2 separate regions of the Homo sapiens genome follow, and region 2 is linked to region 1. The links come from fine-mapping of genetic effects on gene expression. Tissue or cell type: whole blood. Region 1 holds a variant in brackets; the other region holds the start of a gene. All regions are shown on one strand. Distances are from middle to middle.

Region 1 (8,110 bases):
TAAATAGTGAGGTTGAAAGGAAAGCTGCTTTTTGTTTGTTTTTCTGGAGTCAGAAATAAAACATGCACTAAAGCAAATATTAATGTCAAAATTAGTAGATTTAAATGGGATTTTTTTAAATCATTTAATATTTTTAAAGTGGATTAGTGAGGATTTTACTATGATGGAAATTTAAGAGGACCACAGATTGTGTTTCTAGGGGTAGCCAGTGTCAGTGCAGCTTTTAAAATTAATATTTAGTTTAAGTCTGCATGTGAAATATTAAGAAATTATTAAGTTAGAAAGCTTTGCTTTTCTTTTTCTTTTTTCTTTTTTCTGGGACAGGATCTGGCTCTGTTGCCCAGGCTGGAGTGCAGTGGAACAATCTCAGCTCACTGAAACCTCTGCCTCTTGGGCTTAAGCAATCCTCGCTCCTCAGCCTCTCGAGTAGCTGGAACTAAAGGGGCACACCACCACACCTAGAAGATTTTTTGCATTTTTTGTAGAGGCGGGGTTTCACCATGTTGCCCAGGCTGGTCTCAAACTCCTGGGGTCAAGTGAGCTATGCTTTTCTTAAACAAGTCTCTGGAAATGCCTTGAGTCCTTACAGAAAGAGCAAAGGTACTCACTGAGGATATGACACTTATTAACATGCTATATACTGGAAGGCAAAGACTTCCTATTGAGAAAGACTTTTATTTAAGAGTCATATGTTATTTATTTTGTTCCACGGTAAAACATTTATTTTGTAAGAGTTCTATAAAATATATCTTGGGAATCATAAAAACATGCTTGAGCCAATAACACATTTTAGTAGTAAGTTACTCTGGGTAATATTAATTTTAATTTAGTGCCTTGTGTTTCTATAGGTATTATTATTTCATAGTAGTATTTCAAGAATTATAGAGAAGATAGACTGATCATCTTGAAAGTGGCATTTTCGTGTTGGCATTATAGGCATTTTGGGTAAGACAAATCTTCATGGAGTGGCCTTTTGGTGGAGGATGTTCAGCATTTTTGGCCCACCAGGCTCAAAATCTCAGTAACATCCCCTCACATCAAGACGTTGTGACAACCAGTGAAGAGCCTCACATAATTCCAAACCCTAGGAAGTCATACAGCCCCCGATCTAGTAGAAAAACCAGGCAGGAGCATTTTGCTTTTCTGGCACTGGGGAATGGAAAGTCAGGCTTACATCTGAGCTAATATGATAGAGAAACAGGTCAACGACAGATGAATGGATGGATGGATAGGTACAGGCAGATAGATGATGGTGATGATGAGATAGATAGATGATAGATAGATAGATAGATAGATGATAGATAGATAGATAGATAGATAGTTTTTACAGTATATGTTTAATGGAAAAGGTGTGGCTAGTTCTTTATGTATTTTCTGCATTTAATTATAGAGAGCACACATTCTAGAAGTCTTTAAAGGTTTGCTCTTTAGCTTAGTTCCAATACATTAAGTTAATATATATTTATTGAGTACCACCTGAAAGTGTGATATGTAGCTTCTCCCTCAGCAAGCATGCTCCAGACTTTGATGGAAAGAAGCCAGAAGTGTCCTGCATACCTTGCATAAAACCACAAGATGATTAATTAGGCTAAGTTAAAAAAATTGTGAGAAGGCTCAATATAAAAGTAACTTTTATGGATAACATATATAGAACTCTTTTTAAAAATCAAATATTAAGAACTCAAAATCTGTCTAAAGGCAGAGCAGTTATTCTTATCTAACCATGAGTAATACATATCTACACTTTTTTAGGACAAAATAATAAAGTCTAATTCTTATTTGTTCTAACAACAATTCCTAAGTAAAGGTGAATCATTTTGTGTCTGTGAGTCACTGGATATATATATATATATAATACTGTAATTAGATTACCTGTAGAATCCAGTCAAGTCACAAACATAGTAATTTATCCCAGATACAGTAAATAGATTCTTTGTTTATCAAGGGACTCATTAAACAGTCTCTAGGTGTATATTGACTATCTCATAAGCTAGACATCAAATTTAATTTGTGTTGGCTATTGCTGGTGCCAATAAGAGATTGGTTTCCCTCTCCCCTAGATTTCCCATGAGTTCAGACCAACTTACCAGGGGCCATTTAAGTTAATTAATACAAGCTGCTGCTCAGATACTGATTCCCTAGGATAGCTTTCGGGTTACAAAAGAGAAACCTACTTCCAAATTATCATAAAATATCATATAAGCATATATGATAAAGGGTAAAGTAGGGCAGTCAGCAAATGTAAAACAGAAGAGAAATAGAAGAAATTAAATCTAGGATGATCAGGTTATGTCATGAAGTTGGGCAGTTCTATGAAGTTCATTTTCAATGACTCAGGCCAAAAAGTGTAAACAATTTAAGACACAGAAACAGCATCAGCTTAATCCTTTAATGTATTTAAAACAGAATGTGTAGGCCAAGGTGAGAGGATTGCTTGAGCCTAAGTGCTCAAGACCATCTTGGGCAATAGAGTGAGACCGTATCTCTACCAAAAATTTTAAAAATTAGCCAAGCGTGGTGATACATTCCTGTAGTCCTAGCTATTCGGGAGGCTGAGGTGGGAGGATGGCTTGAGCAGAGGCTGCAGTGAGCTGAGAAAGTGCCACTGCACTCCAGCCTGGGCGACAGAGTGAGACCCTGTCTCAAAATTAATTAATTAATTAAAAATAAAACAAGTTACAACTCTGTGGTCATTTCTGTTTCAAGATTAAAATACCTTTATTAAGGGGTTACTATCTGTATAGGGGATATAATTCCACTATCAAACATAAGCCTCCAGGGTAGCCAGGGATTTGGGGCTGATATGGGAAGAATAGGGTACAGTCTCCTATGGGATGAACTATATTCCTTTTGCTGCCAGCAGAAGGTGGGAGCGATATGGTGAATCTTTTACACAGTCTTGGTAGTCAAAGGCTAGAGATTCCCCCCTACCCTCAAGTGCTGGCTCTGGGATGAGAAAGGAGGGGAATGAGAAAGTGTTGAAGGAGATGACAATGACAAAACCAAAGACTGTAGAGAAAAAAGTGGAGTTATATTTTGGGTGAGCAGGCTTTAACTTTTGTATTCCTCTTCCTGCTCACTTTTTAGGTTCAATGTTACAACCTAGAGCTCCTGTTTTAAGTCTTTGAATAGGTTTAGCCAGACACAAAATGATCAGATCCTCTTTTAATCTGGGTAGGTGCTTTCCTGTTTTCTTTTGTGCTTCTCGTGGGGGAAAAGGTAAACCTATGGATAGCAGAACTGGACAAGGTATGGGCTGATCCTCTCTCTGAAATGGGCTCATTTTTTCTTTTGGCAGGCATCTCACTTACAGAGACTCATCCTGACCCCCTTGTCAGCCCTGCTGTCCTTATTCCCAGGGCCTCACAAGCTCATCCAGAAACGCTATGACAAACTGCTGGATTGCAACAGCTACCTGCAGCGATCAAC[G/A]GGAGAGGAGTCAGACTTGGCCAAAAAGGAGTATGAGGCCCTCAACGCCCAGCTTGTGGAGGAGCTCCAGGCATTCAACCAGGCTGCTCGGAAGATTCTGTTGAACTGTCTATGCAGCTTCATTACCCTCCTTAGGGACCTGATGCTCGTGGCACAGCAGGCTTACTCCACACTTGTGCCGGTAAGCACAGCACCAACACCTAGCTAGCTACCTTGGCCTACTGGATCTGCTAGAAACCACACCCATACGAAAGCCCTGTTCAGAGTGTGCACATGTATGCCGTGTGGTGTGTGTGTATTTATTTTAACTAAATCCAGTCAGATAGTCTCCTGTTCCTTATCTGTCTTATCCATGGGAAACTCAAAGAGGGTTTCCTAGTTCAGGTTTACTGTGACTTACACATTTGTAATTCTTTTTTGGAGATGCCTTTTCAAATACCAAACACCTTTCAGCCTTGCTCCACCTGCCTGATGCAACATTGAAGCTTATCAACAATTTATATTTTGTATTTTTTTCTGATCAATAGTTCTTAGATGTTAACTGTGACTATTTAAGATGTGGCTCTAAAAAGAAGGCCATCTCAGCATAATGAAAGATGCAGGATAACATTCAAACCATGCTTTGTTTTGATTTCATTTTTCCCCAAGAAAGAGAAGCCTGGTTTTGTGTGTGTGTGTGTGTGTGTGTGTGTGTGTGTGTGTGTAGCTTCGCCTCCCATTAGGATATAATTTTATAATTATTTTCCTGATGAGGAAGAAAGATATTTACAACTTATATCAACTTTTGAAAAATTAGCTTGGTTTCTTGGCCCTACGTTTCAACTACACTAGTTCTCATCTGAATGAGATGGACAGCTATTCAATGGGTAACACCTGGAGCAGAAATAATTGTCCCTACTTTATTTTCTATTGTGCATTAATTAACTTTTAACTTATACTTTGAATTAAATTAAATTGAATAAACGAGGGCTATGTTTACAGGGTTCAAAAGCCAAAACTGTGTAAATGTATAATCAGTCTCACACTCATACCTGTTCCTCTAGCATCCCATTCGCCACTCTCATCCCCATTTTTGTTAGTTTATTTTTATGCATTTAGTGCTTTCTCATGCCAGTAACAATAAATGCAAGTATATATTTTTATTTCTTAAAAGTAAAAAACAGCATATTATATATACCATTCTGCACTTGCTCTTTAACAATATATTCTGAGAATGCATCTATAATAGTACATAAAGAGCTTCCTCATTCTTTTTTTTTTTTTTGGTGGGGGGGGATGGAGTTTCACTTTTGTTGCCCAGGTTGGAGTGCAAAGGCCCAATCTCGGCTCACTGCAACCTCCACCTTCCGGGTTCAAGCGATTTTCCTGCCTCAGCCTCCTAAGTAGCTGGGATTACAGGCATGTGCCATCAAGCCCAGCTAATTTTTGTGTTTTTAGTAGAGACGGGGTTTCTCCATTTTGGTCAGGCTGGTCTCGAACTTCTGACCTCAGGTGATCCACTCGCCTCGGCCTTCCAAAGTGCTGGGATTATAGGCATGAGCCACTGCGCCCAGCCTGAGCTTCCTAATTCTTTTTACAGCTTTATAGTAACTTACTGCATGGCTGTATAATAATGTATAACCATTCCCTTTTTTTAAAATAACTTTATTGTGATATAATTTGTATACCATACATTCCACCTATTTAAAGTATACAATTTGATTATTTTTAGTATATTCACAAGAGTTGTGCAGCCATTGCCACAACCAATTTTAGAACATTGTCGTGGCCCCCTAAAGGAACCCTGTACCCATCCACATTTTTTCCTAACCTCCCCAGCTCTAGGCAACTATCAATTTACTTTCTGCCTGTACAGATTTTCCTATTCTGGGCATTTTGTATAAATGAAATCATACAGTACATGGTTATTTGTGACTGGCTTCTTCTATTTAGCATAACATTTCAGGGTTTCTTCATGCCTAGCATGTTTCATTATTTCATTCATTTTATCGCCAAATAACATTCCATTGTATGAATATACCACACTTTACTTATTCATTCGTCAGTTGACGGGCATTTGGGTTATTTCCATTTTTTGGCTGTTATTAGTAATGCTTCTGTAAACATTCAAGTTTTTAGTGGATATATGTTCCCATTTCTGTTGATTATATACCTAGGAGTGGAATTTCTGGATCATATGTTAACTCTATGTTTAACCTTTTGAAAAACAACCAGACTGTTTTCCAAAGTGGCTGCACTATTTTATCTTCTCAGCAGTATCGACTGAGAGTTTCAATTTCTCCACACCTCTTTATTATTATTATTATTATTATTATTATTATTATTATTATTATTGTTATAGCTATCCTAATGGGTGTGCAGTGGTATCTCATTGTGGTTTTTATTTGTATTTCCCTGATCAGCACTGTTTTAAAACTCATTAAATTGAAGTAATAACTTCTATACATTAAACTGCACCAGTCTGAACTGCACATCTCAATCAATATTTGCATATACACATCTGTGTAACTACCACCCAGATCAAGATATAATCCCTTTCCAGTTCCCCATAAAGATCACTCATGACCATTCCCAGGCACCTAAAGGTAACCATTTTTCTAACCTGTATTACCATACATTGTTTGACCTGTTTTGTACTTCATATAAATGGAATCATACAATATGTATTCTTTTGTGTATTAACCTGTCCCTATTGATGAGTATTTGATCTATTTCCAACGTTTTTTTATTACAAATAATGCCGGGGTCATGATACGTGGACAGATGTATCTGTAGGACAGATTTATAGAAATGATAGAAGTGGGATCTCTGTGTCAAAGGGTAAAGACGTATGTAATTTTGCTGGATATTGCCAGATTCCCTGCTTAACTATGTACCATTTTGGATTCCCACTTGTAACATGTAAGAAAGCTGGTTTCTCTGGATTTTTGCCAATCTAATAGGTTTCAAGTGTAATTTTAATTTGCATTTCTTTAAGTATTAGTGAGATTGAGAGTCTTCACATATGAGGGCTATTTATCTTCCTGTGAGTTAGTTGTTCATGTGTTTTACTCCTTTTTCTTTGGGTTCTTGGTATTTTTCTCCTTAATTTCTAGCAGCAATGTATATGCTAGGGAGATGAGCCTTTTGTTGAGATAAAAATTGAGACTACTTTTTCCAAGTTAACCTTTGTCTTTGACTTCACTTGTGATTTTTTTTCATGCTAATGTTTGTGTTTTTAAAAAATGCAGTCAGATTTATTAATTTCATTTTATGACTTCTAGATTTTGAATCTTATAAAGGACTTCCATATTTTAAGGCTCCAAATAAATTCAGCAGTGTTTCTTCTAGTATATTTAGGGTTTCATATTTTTTTATTTAAATAATCAATCCATGTAGATTTTATCCTGGTTCATGTTGTAAAATATGGATTTAATTTTATCTTTTTCCAAATGACTTTCCAGTTGCTCCAACACTATTTATTTAAAAATAATCTCTTGTTACTGCTTTCTCAATGAAACACATTTAATTTGCAAATTATTTCGATAATTTCATTCTGAGGTCATGGTAGAAGGTGGGTTCATAAGTTCAGAACAAAGTTGAGCTTTGGCAGGAATTTACTAGTCAGAAAAGACATGTTATTTTAGGTATCTTTGATCCCCACTTTGAATCATGTGATTTTTAAAGGCATTTTCAGTTTCTATTTTAAATTATCTGAGTATCTTTCACATTGCAGTCCATAGCCAAACAAGAGCATAGAGATGCTTTGTTTTTGAGAAATTTCTAGTGTCTTAAAGTAAAAGGCATTTTGGAGAAGTTATCCTCATTAAAATGATTTTATTCTTTATTTTATATGTTCTGTATATTTAAACTTTTTATTTTGTGATACTTAGAGATTCATATGCAGTGGTAAGAAGTATTACGGAGATCCTGTACAACCCTCACACAGCTTACCCAATGGTAACACATCTTGCATAACTACATGTATTTCTGAAAGGCAGAATTGAATAGTGATTAGAGAACACTAGAGTACCTTGTTTTAATACCTGCTCACTGCTATACTACATTGTGTAAATTAATGTATCCTTCTGTTTAAATTTTCTCATATGAATTAAAATGAGAATAATAATGTAAATAATTTTTAAATTTTTAATTGTATAAAAAACCACAATTTACCATTATAAGAATTTTTAAGTGTACATTTCAGTAGTGTTAAGTATACTTATATTGTTGTGTAATAGCTCTCCAAAACATTTTCATCTTGCAAAACTGAAACTATACTCATTAAACAAGTCCCCATACTCCCCTCCCCCAAGTCCCTGCAACCATCATTCTATTTTCTGTTTCTACAAATTTGACTACTTTAAATACCTCATGTAAATGGAATCATACAGTGTTTGTCTCTGTGACTGCCTTATTTTGCTTAATATAATGTCCTCAAGATTCATTCGTGTTGTAGCATGTGATAGGATTTCTTTCATTTTTAACTGTGAATATTTCATTATATATAAAAAACACATTTTGGGCTGGATGTGGTGGCTCACGCCTGTAATCCCAGCACTTTGGGAGGCTGAGGCAGGCGGATCACTTGAGGCCGAGAGTTCAAGACCAGCCTAGCCAACATGGCGAAACCTTGTCTCTACTAAAAATACAAAAACTTGCCAGGTGTGGTGGCACATGCCTGTAATCCCAGCTACTCGGG
Region 2 (8,110 bases), 48 kb after region 1:
ATGAGTCATTCGCCGCCTCAGTCAGGTAAACCTAATACATACGATTGTCCCTCCTACTTCTTTGTCAGTCATCTTTGTAGGTTCCTCCTATCCAATTAAAAATGAGTTCCTCAGTGCTAGGTTCTGGGTCTCTTCTTGACTTGTTCTACATCTTCTTCCAAAAATGTGTTCTCTGAGTCAGCAGCATAGGTATCACGTCAGAACTTAGAAATACAAACTCTTGGTCTCCATTCCTAGGCCTACTGAAGAAAAAACTCTGGGAGTAGGGTCTAGAAATCTGTGTTAAGCCTTCCAGGCAATTCTATCTACTCTAAAGTTTGGGAATTATTGCCCTAGACAATTTGATCTATATAGTCTTTTGCCAGTGATTACTAATACATCTCTGCAGTCCATGTGTCTCTCCCAAGATCCAACTGCCAGCTTGACATGGATATATCATTGGTGCCTCCTATGCAACGTGTCTCCAACAGAGCCACTCATACACTATTCCCTTTTCTCCTAACCAGTTCTTCCTCTAGTAATCCCTTTTTCAAATGATATTTACCCTATTGCCCAAGCCAGTAACCCAGAAGCAGCTTTAACTCTTCCCACTTCCTTAATTCCCACCCCCAATTCAATAACCAAACCTCTTAAACATACCTCAAATCTATCCACCCTTTTCAATCCTTACTACTACCACCCTAGACCAACCTAGCATCATCTATTATCTGGCCCACTGCAAAAGCTTAATCAGTCTCCCACAATCACTCTTGTCATCCCTTTAAACCTTTTCATATCACTCACTTGCTTAAAATCCTTTTATCACTTCTCACAATCCAAAGGTTCAAGAATAAGATTCTTAACAAGGTCTCCAATTCTCTACATCAGGGGTCCCTAACCTTCAGGCCATGCAGCAGGAGGTGAGCAGTAGGCAAGCGAGGGAAGCTTCATTTGTATTTACAGCCACTCCCATCACTTGCATTACTACCTGAGCTCTGCCTCCTGTCACATCACTGGTGGAATTAGATTCTCATAGGAATGCGAATCCTATGTGAACTGTGCATGTGTGTGATCTACGTTGTGTGCTCCTCATGAGAATCTAATGCCTGATGATCTGTCACAGTATACCCCATCATCCCCAGATGAAACCGTCTAGCTGCAGGAAAGCAAGCTCAAGGTTCCCACTGATTCTACATTATGGTGAGTTGTCCAATTATTTTATTATATATTACCATGTAGTAATAAGAGAAATAAAGTGCACAATAAATGTAATGCACTTGAATCATCCTGAAACCATGTCTTCAATGAAACTGGTCCCTGGTGCCAAAAAGGTTGTGGACCATTGCTCTACATGATTAATAATACATATAAAGCAGTTACAACAGTACCTGACACATAGTTGACACTCATTAAATGTTACCTAGTATCTTAGGCCATTCTCACTCTCTCTGTTATAGCTATCTGACTTATTTCAAGTCCTCCAATATACTCTTTCTTACCTTAGCACTTCAGTAGAAAGTGTGCCACCCCCACCTCCATCTTAAGTCACCTCTCAAGTTTCAGTTTTTCCTGCACATTCCCTCAACAAAACTAGAAGTTTCACTGTTACATAGCCCAAAAACATTCTGTACTTATTTGTAATATTAATCACACTGTTAATTATGTAAATAATCTTTCTTTCTCATTAGAATGTAAGTTCCATGAAGGCAGGCAGTGGATTGGTCTTGCCTACTGTTGTAACCCCTGTCTGGCAGAGTTCCTGGAAAACAGCAAATAACTGTAAATGTTGGCCAAGTAAATACTTGTTATCTACTTCCAATTTCATAAAACTTTCTCTTCCCTTGAGTTCTGTTATACTCAACTTTTCTGTTTTTCCTCTTCTATCTCTGACTACTCTTTCTTTGGCTTATCTTCTTTGTTGCTTTTGGTATTGTCCAAGTATTTGTCCTTGGCTATCTTCTTAGTTCTGCTAGCAGTTTCTTCTTGGTAATCTTATACACATCAGGTTTTCAACTATCATCTCTGGGTAGATGATTTAATATGTTTTACCCCAACTTCAATCTCTTTTTTTTTTTTTTTTTTTTTGAGACATGGTCTTGCTCTGTCACCCAGGTTGGAGTGCACTGAGATCATGGCTCACTGCAGCCTCGAACTCCTGGGCTCAAGTGATCCTCCTGCCTCAGCCTCCCAAGCAGCTAGGACTACAGGCATGCACCACCGTAACCATGCCCAGGTAATTTTGTTGTTTTTTAAGTAGAGCCAGGGTCTTGCTATGTTGCTCTTATCTGGTCTCAAACAATCCTCCTGTTGTGGCTTCCCAAAGTGCTGGGATTACAAGTGCGAGCCAAATCTCTTAAATTTGAATCCCATGTTTCCAAATGCTTAGTGTATGTGTCTATGTGATTCCTTAATGGCATCTCAAATTCAGTTACAACTAAAATTGAGATTCTGATTATCTTCCCGAAAAGTTCCTTGTCCTGCTCTTACTTTCAATAAATGACACAACTTTCTTTTAGTCAGGTTTGAGACCAAAGTCTTTCCTTCACTGAGTCTTTCCCTACTCCTTATATTCAAATAATCAGAATTCCTGTGGATTCTGACGGCAATATTTTTCACACTTGTCCTACTTTTCACTTCCACTGCTACTACTGAAATTCAGGTTTTATTAGCTTACTTGAACTATGGCAATAACCTCGTTATTTTCCTTGACTTCAACATTGTTGCCATATGAATTTTCCTGAAACCCAGTTTTCTTCTTTTTCATTAAAATAAAAAAAAAAATTCTTGCTGAGAAGTTAGGGCTTTCTACCACCTTCGAAATAAAGACCAAATTTCTTGGCCTAGCATTTAAGAAGATTCAGTAACTGGCACAAAAATTATCATTCATCATCCCCAGATCTGCCTTATAGCTAGCTGACCCTGCCACTCTTATTTTTTTTGTCCAGGAAGCTCTTTACCTATTTTTATATATCTACATCCTATCAAGACCCTATTCAAATACTTCTCATGAAGATTTGACTGACAGCTGCTGTGCCCCTCTCCATTCCAAACCCTATTAATAGTCTCTCCATTCAAGGATATCTCATAGTGCTTTTTCATGGTATTGCAACTTTCTCCCTTGAAGCATTTTTTTTTTTTTTTGGCACAAGTGTTATGTCCCCTACAAAACTCTGAGTACTTTAAGGGCAGAGTCTATATTTATCTTTTTGCCTATCTCTTTGCCACTTTGCAAAGTACAACAAAATAATGGCTATAGAATTACTGGAATTAAGTGATCAAAGTATAGTGGTCTTATCTCTCCTTCTACACAATTGTAGCCATTTCCAAGGTCCCTTCAGCAAAAATCACAAAAGTAACTCACCCCTGCCCCCACAAAAAAAACTCCAAACATCAAAAAAGCAAAAGCAAAGCAATCACCTCTTTCACGACTGGGGACTTGTAGTACAATGTTCCTATCTGTAAAATTCTCACAATCTTTCGCCTGTCTTGCTTAATTCATTAATCCCACTGGTCTGTAAACTTGATGACAGCAGGAACTTGTTTTGTTCACTGTTATTTCCCTAGTGCTTGAAACTTAATAAGGGCTCAAAAATATTTATCGAATGAACGAACTAGGTTTTTTGCGTAAATGTCACCTTATAAGGCTTCTGTGATCTCTCCAGTCTAAATTGGGCATTCATATATAAATATAAGTATGTGCTTTCTCCTAGATCCATTTTTCACCCTACCTGGCAATCTCAAAAGAAGTCCAAAGTTGATCATATGCACGTGCCCCAGATGAAGGAAACAGAAACTGTTCACATAGAGTGCAGTATTATCGTTGCCATTTCATAATGGCTCTAAAAAACTTTGTTCTTCATGACTTCGCAAGCTCTTGCAACCCCTTCCAATAAACATTATTTTAAAGATGCTGCCTTTTTCATTCCTCCACTGAGTTCTTGGTTCTGGATAACACTGATACCTTAGGGACACCTGGAATCGCAGGAGAAAAGGCTCCGATTCCAAACCAATCAAGTGGCTGAAAGCTGACAGCAAACACTTAGAAAAGGAATGTCAATCCTTTGATCAAAGCATCACACATCGAAGTCCTAGAATGGGGGATGGTCCTTGACAGGGGAGCCAAAAGATGAGAGACAATGAGGGAGCTACGTAGAGAAGTCACTAAAACCCTCCGACAAAGTCCGAGGCAGGATTCCAAGTCCCTTGTCCCTAGACCTAGAAATATGCTCGGTCCGCATGTCCCGGCCCGCAACTCCCTCGGAGGAAGCACAGTCCTCACTGAAAGGGGAGAGCAGTCAGTCTAGGGCACGCAACCGCCCGTAAATTATGATTCCCCTTGAGGAGCGAGGAAACTAATACCCCACGTAGCTACTCTCCCACCTCGCTCCTGGCGCGGGGGTCTCGAGCCTCCAGGAGGCCAGGAGCAGAGTCGCTCAGCATAACTCACCGTTCCGCCCCGCCCTGCCGATCCGTCTGTTCCCGGTGGTCCCTTCGGAAACGGTTCCCGCACTGGCCGGCTCCGAAAGCAGGAAAACAAAGGTTCCCACAGTAGGGGCGGGGGAAACGTTTGGCAGTGCGACAGTAGGAAGTGACGTTACTTCCCTTTTTCCGGTCCGCCGGATTATGAATGACGGCCGGCGCGAGTATTTTCCACATAAGGTGGCTGTCGTTTTTCTCCTGGCGTCTGTGGAGGCGAGTGGTCTGCGGGCAGCAGCTCCCAGAGGCAGCCTTGGAATTCCAGCTCGGACTGGGCGGGAAGGCGCAGGCGGCCCAGGTCGCCGACACGCTCACGCACCCTCCCTGCCTGGCCGCGCCTCTGCGACCAGGTAAAGAGGGCGCTCGGGCCGCCGGCTTCTCAGCCTCCGCGACCCCCTAAGAACTGGTCTTTTCTTCGGGGGTCTGCAGGGCTGAGGATGCGGGGGAAGGGTGGGAAGGACAAGGGCGTGGTATCATCGTCCTGATTTTTCTCCCGCCCTGGGGCCGCCTCAAACTCCTTTTTGGCCACTCCTGCTGAAGGTGCGGGTTGAGGGCTCTGGGCTTCTCGGTAGTACGCGTTTCCCAGTTTCCCCCTAGCCAGTCCCTCATGTCTTCCTCTGCTGATGGAGAAATGGGGCAGCTTCCAGTTGGAGGCGTTGGTTGGGGTGGTTTGATATTTGCTGTTAAGTGTTACTTCAAGACCTCTTGGGTCACACTAACTTCTCTTCTCTCTTTGGCATTGAGTTTTCCATTCCAGCCCTTCCTGATTGCAGAAAGCAGTTCTATGTGAATACTACTTAACATTTACTCCAAAGGACTTGCTTCATTTGGGGCCATTTGCTTATGTTTTGTCATCACAGCAGTATCTCTTGGGTTTTTAACTTCTATAGAAAGTTTAATTTGCATGAAAGTTGCTTTGGTTTCAAAAACGTTTGCTAATACACGTACTTCCCATCCCAACTTTCTACCTGGTTTTGGGATGAGATGACTTGTTTTTTTCCCCTTTATTCTTAATGCCAGGATCCCATTCCTTGTCATAAATTCTTGAATATCAAGAAAATGCCAGCTTTAGTAATATATTGTGTGCTACATTATTGATAAAGAAGGTGGTGTATTTCTATTTTACCTAAGCTTATCTGTAAAAACAATGTTTACAGGAGAAAATGCAAAAGCTAGCAAGAACTAGTGATGTGATAATTTTAAACATGTAAACATAGTCATTTAAATCCATGATAATAAACTGTTATAACACAACTAAGTGATTCGCTGTCATATTTAATAAACATTAAGCTATGCGGGTTTTTTTTTCTTTTTTTTTAACTGCCTGATGGGGAGCATACACCACTGAGAGGATTGCTTTAAGCACACTCATTACTAAAAATTGTGTTTGTATTACACCTGAAAGTATCGTTTTGTGAGGTCTCACTTCAAAAATAAGACTGAAAAGGTCAATGAGATTTGAGAATCATCATTTCTTTTTATTTTATATACTTTGCACTTCTACGTGTTTTTGCTTTAATTTAAACACAGCTCAAACTTGAGCTTCTGTAGTAGTGGGCCCATCAATTTTTTTTTTTTTTTTTTTTTTTGAGCTGGAGTCCTGCTCTGTCGCCTGGGGATGGATTGCAATGGCAACATCCGCCTCCCGGGCTCAAGCAATTCTCCTGCCTCAGCCTCCCGAGTAGTTGGGATTACAGGCGCCCACAATCACACTCGGCTCCTTTTTTTTTTTTTTTTTTTTCAGTCGAGGAGGGGTTTCACCATGTTGGCCAGGCTGGTCTCAAACTCCTGACCTCAAATGATCCGCCCGCCTCGGCTTCCCAAAGTGGTGGGATTACAGGCGTGAGCCACCGCGCCCGGCCTGTTTTTGTTTTTTTAAACTTGTTTTACTTGTAGCTTTTGTTTCATCATCTGTGATTTTTAAATAAAAATAAATACTGAGTATCCAATTAGCTTTTCTAACAAAGAATAAATACTTGGAATGCAGATATTGAAACCATTTAGATTAAAACAAGCACAGGTATTGTTTGCTGTGAAAATTCAGTAATTTTATTTCATACTTGGTAACATGTTAGCCATTTGCGCTGTCGATCACTGTTAATTATGAGGTCGGGTTTAGCTGAAGGCATTATGACTCCATGGCAACAGATGATTCCCTGATTCTCCAGAGAGATTACACACTTCGTTTGTGGCTAAGGTTACTGTAAGCTTTTCACTTAAAAACTTTTCCTACTTCTTTACCAGATAAGAAAACAGCTAATTTTAATCACTGGCTTTTGTTCTCTAGGACTTAACTGCATCCCATATTACGTATTTAATGAGCTTGAAAAAATCTCAGTGTTTTTCTTATCGTTTTTGACCCTAAATATTTAAGGTAATTGGCTGCTATCTATCTGTTGAGGGGCATGTTTTTTTGTTTTGTTTTGTTTTGGTTAAATCTATATTATTGTAATAAAATAGGGTACAATTTTCAGCCAAATACTGTTGTTTTATGAAAAGCATAAAACACAAGATAAGTTATAAAATTCAAAATGTTGAACATATGATGTAGGAGAGAATTTAGGCAGGTTTAAATTTTAATCTTTAAGAAAAGTAAGTGTTTGTGATTTTTCATACTTATAAACTGTGTTGAACTTCTTATTTTGTACAATAGGTTGATATGCACATGGATTAAGGGTTTCACGTTTATATTTTACCATTTCATGATTCCCTGGCTTTCAGCCTCAGTAACAAATATGTTTTTTTTCAGTATTTGGTTGGGAAAAACTTTTCAATCAATATAAATCCTTTACCTTTCATGGAAAGAAGCTTGAAAATATAAACCATAATTTGGGTTTTGCCCATCAAGGTTTGCATATTTTAATAGTGCCAGTTGATAAGGAATTTGGTTATAAATTATAAAGAAATAATAGTAGCTAGTATTTATTTAAGGACTTAATATGTGACAAGCTTTTTTCTGTATGGCACACTACATGGTAGGTACAGTTATTATTGTCTCCATTTTATTATATAAGTGAGGAAACAGATATGCAGAAAAGTTTTTTATAGCTACTAAGAATCAGAACCAGTATATTTGCACCCAGGTGGTCTGGCTCAACAGTCTCGGCTCTAATCTATTACTTTATAATTCTTGTTTTATAAATATTCTTGCTAGGCACATGTATGGAATCTAGTTAAGATTCTTAGTTCCTTTGCCCTGGATATAAGTATACATAAAAACTTCTGTGCTTGCTTTATTTATGAGTTTGGTTAGATTCCATTTATACTTTTCCCGATTCACCTCACAAAGGTGATCTTATTTCTTCATTTTAATTTATACTTAGTTGGTCCTTAAAATAGAGTTATTAATTTGGAAAAGAAAGAATGGTGTCATGAAGAATGAGATACACATTGTACCAAGACTAAAGTTATTAATAATACTCTCAGACAGTGATTTCTGACATTCATATATGTACATTCATTCCTTGAACTAAAGTTTCAGTTCATTAAGCACTGGAGATGTTATAGTGTTAGGTGATAAGAGCTATGAAGAAAAAGGGAAGCTAGGTAAGAGGCTAGGGTGTGCTTTTTCAATTCAGGCAGTCAGGAGAGGCTGTTCTGAGTTAATATTTATGCAGAAAAATCAATGAAATGAGGGAGCAAGCCCTGTGAATCT

What was found. PIP is the estimated chance that this variant, and not a neighbour inherited with it, causes the effect.
Region 2: INTS12 starts here. The variant in region 1 is fine-mapped to the expression of INTS12 in whole blood (TOPMed, PIP 0.91).

The regions. Positions count from the first base shown.
Region 1 is chr4:105,655,756-105,663,865 of GRCh38, forward strand. It overlaps ARHGEF38 (Rho guanine nucleotide exchange factor 38), which reads left to right. Exons shown (of 14, transcript NM_001242729.2): 10 at 3,299-3,610. Among named protein-coding and RNA genes, the nearest start is that of INTS12, 49 kb to the right of the region's middle. The variant G/A (reference allele first, on the strand shown) is at 3,430.
Region 2 is chr4:105,704,212-105,712,321 of GRCh38, forward strand. INTS12 (integrator complex subunit 12) reads right to left here and starts at 4,478. Exons shown (of 8, transcript NM_020395.4): 1 at 4,427-4,478. GSTCD (glutathione S-transferase C-terminal domain containing) reads left to right here and starts at 4,573. Exons shown (of 12, transcript NM_001370181.1): 1 at 4,573-4,805. LOC124900748 (a long non-coding RNA gene) reads left to right here. Exons shown (of 3, transcript XR_007058215.1): 2 at 1,103-1,179; 3 at 1,668-1,763. LOC124900747 (a long non-coding RNA gene) reads left to right here and starts at 2,171. Exons shown (of 2, transcript XR_007058214.1): 1 at 2,171-2,212; 2 at 3,690-3,885. RefSeq lists an enhancer at 4,553-4,802.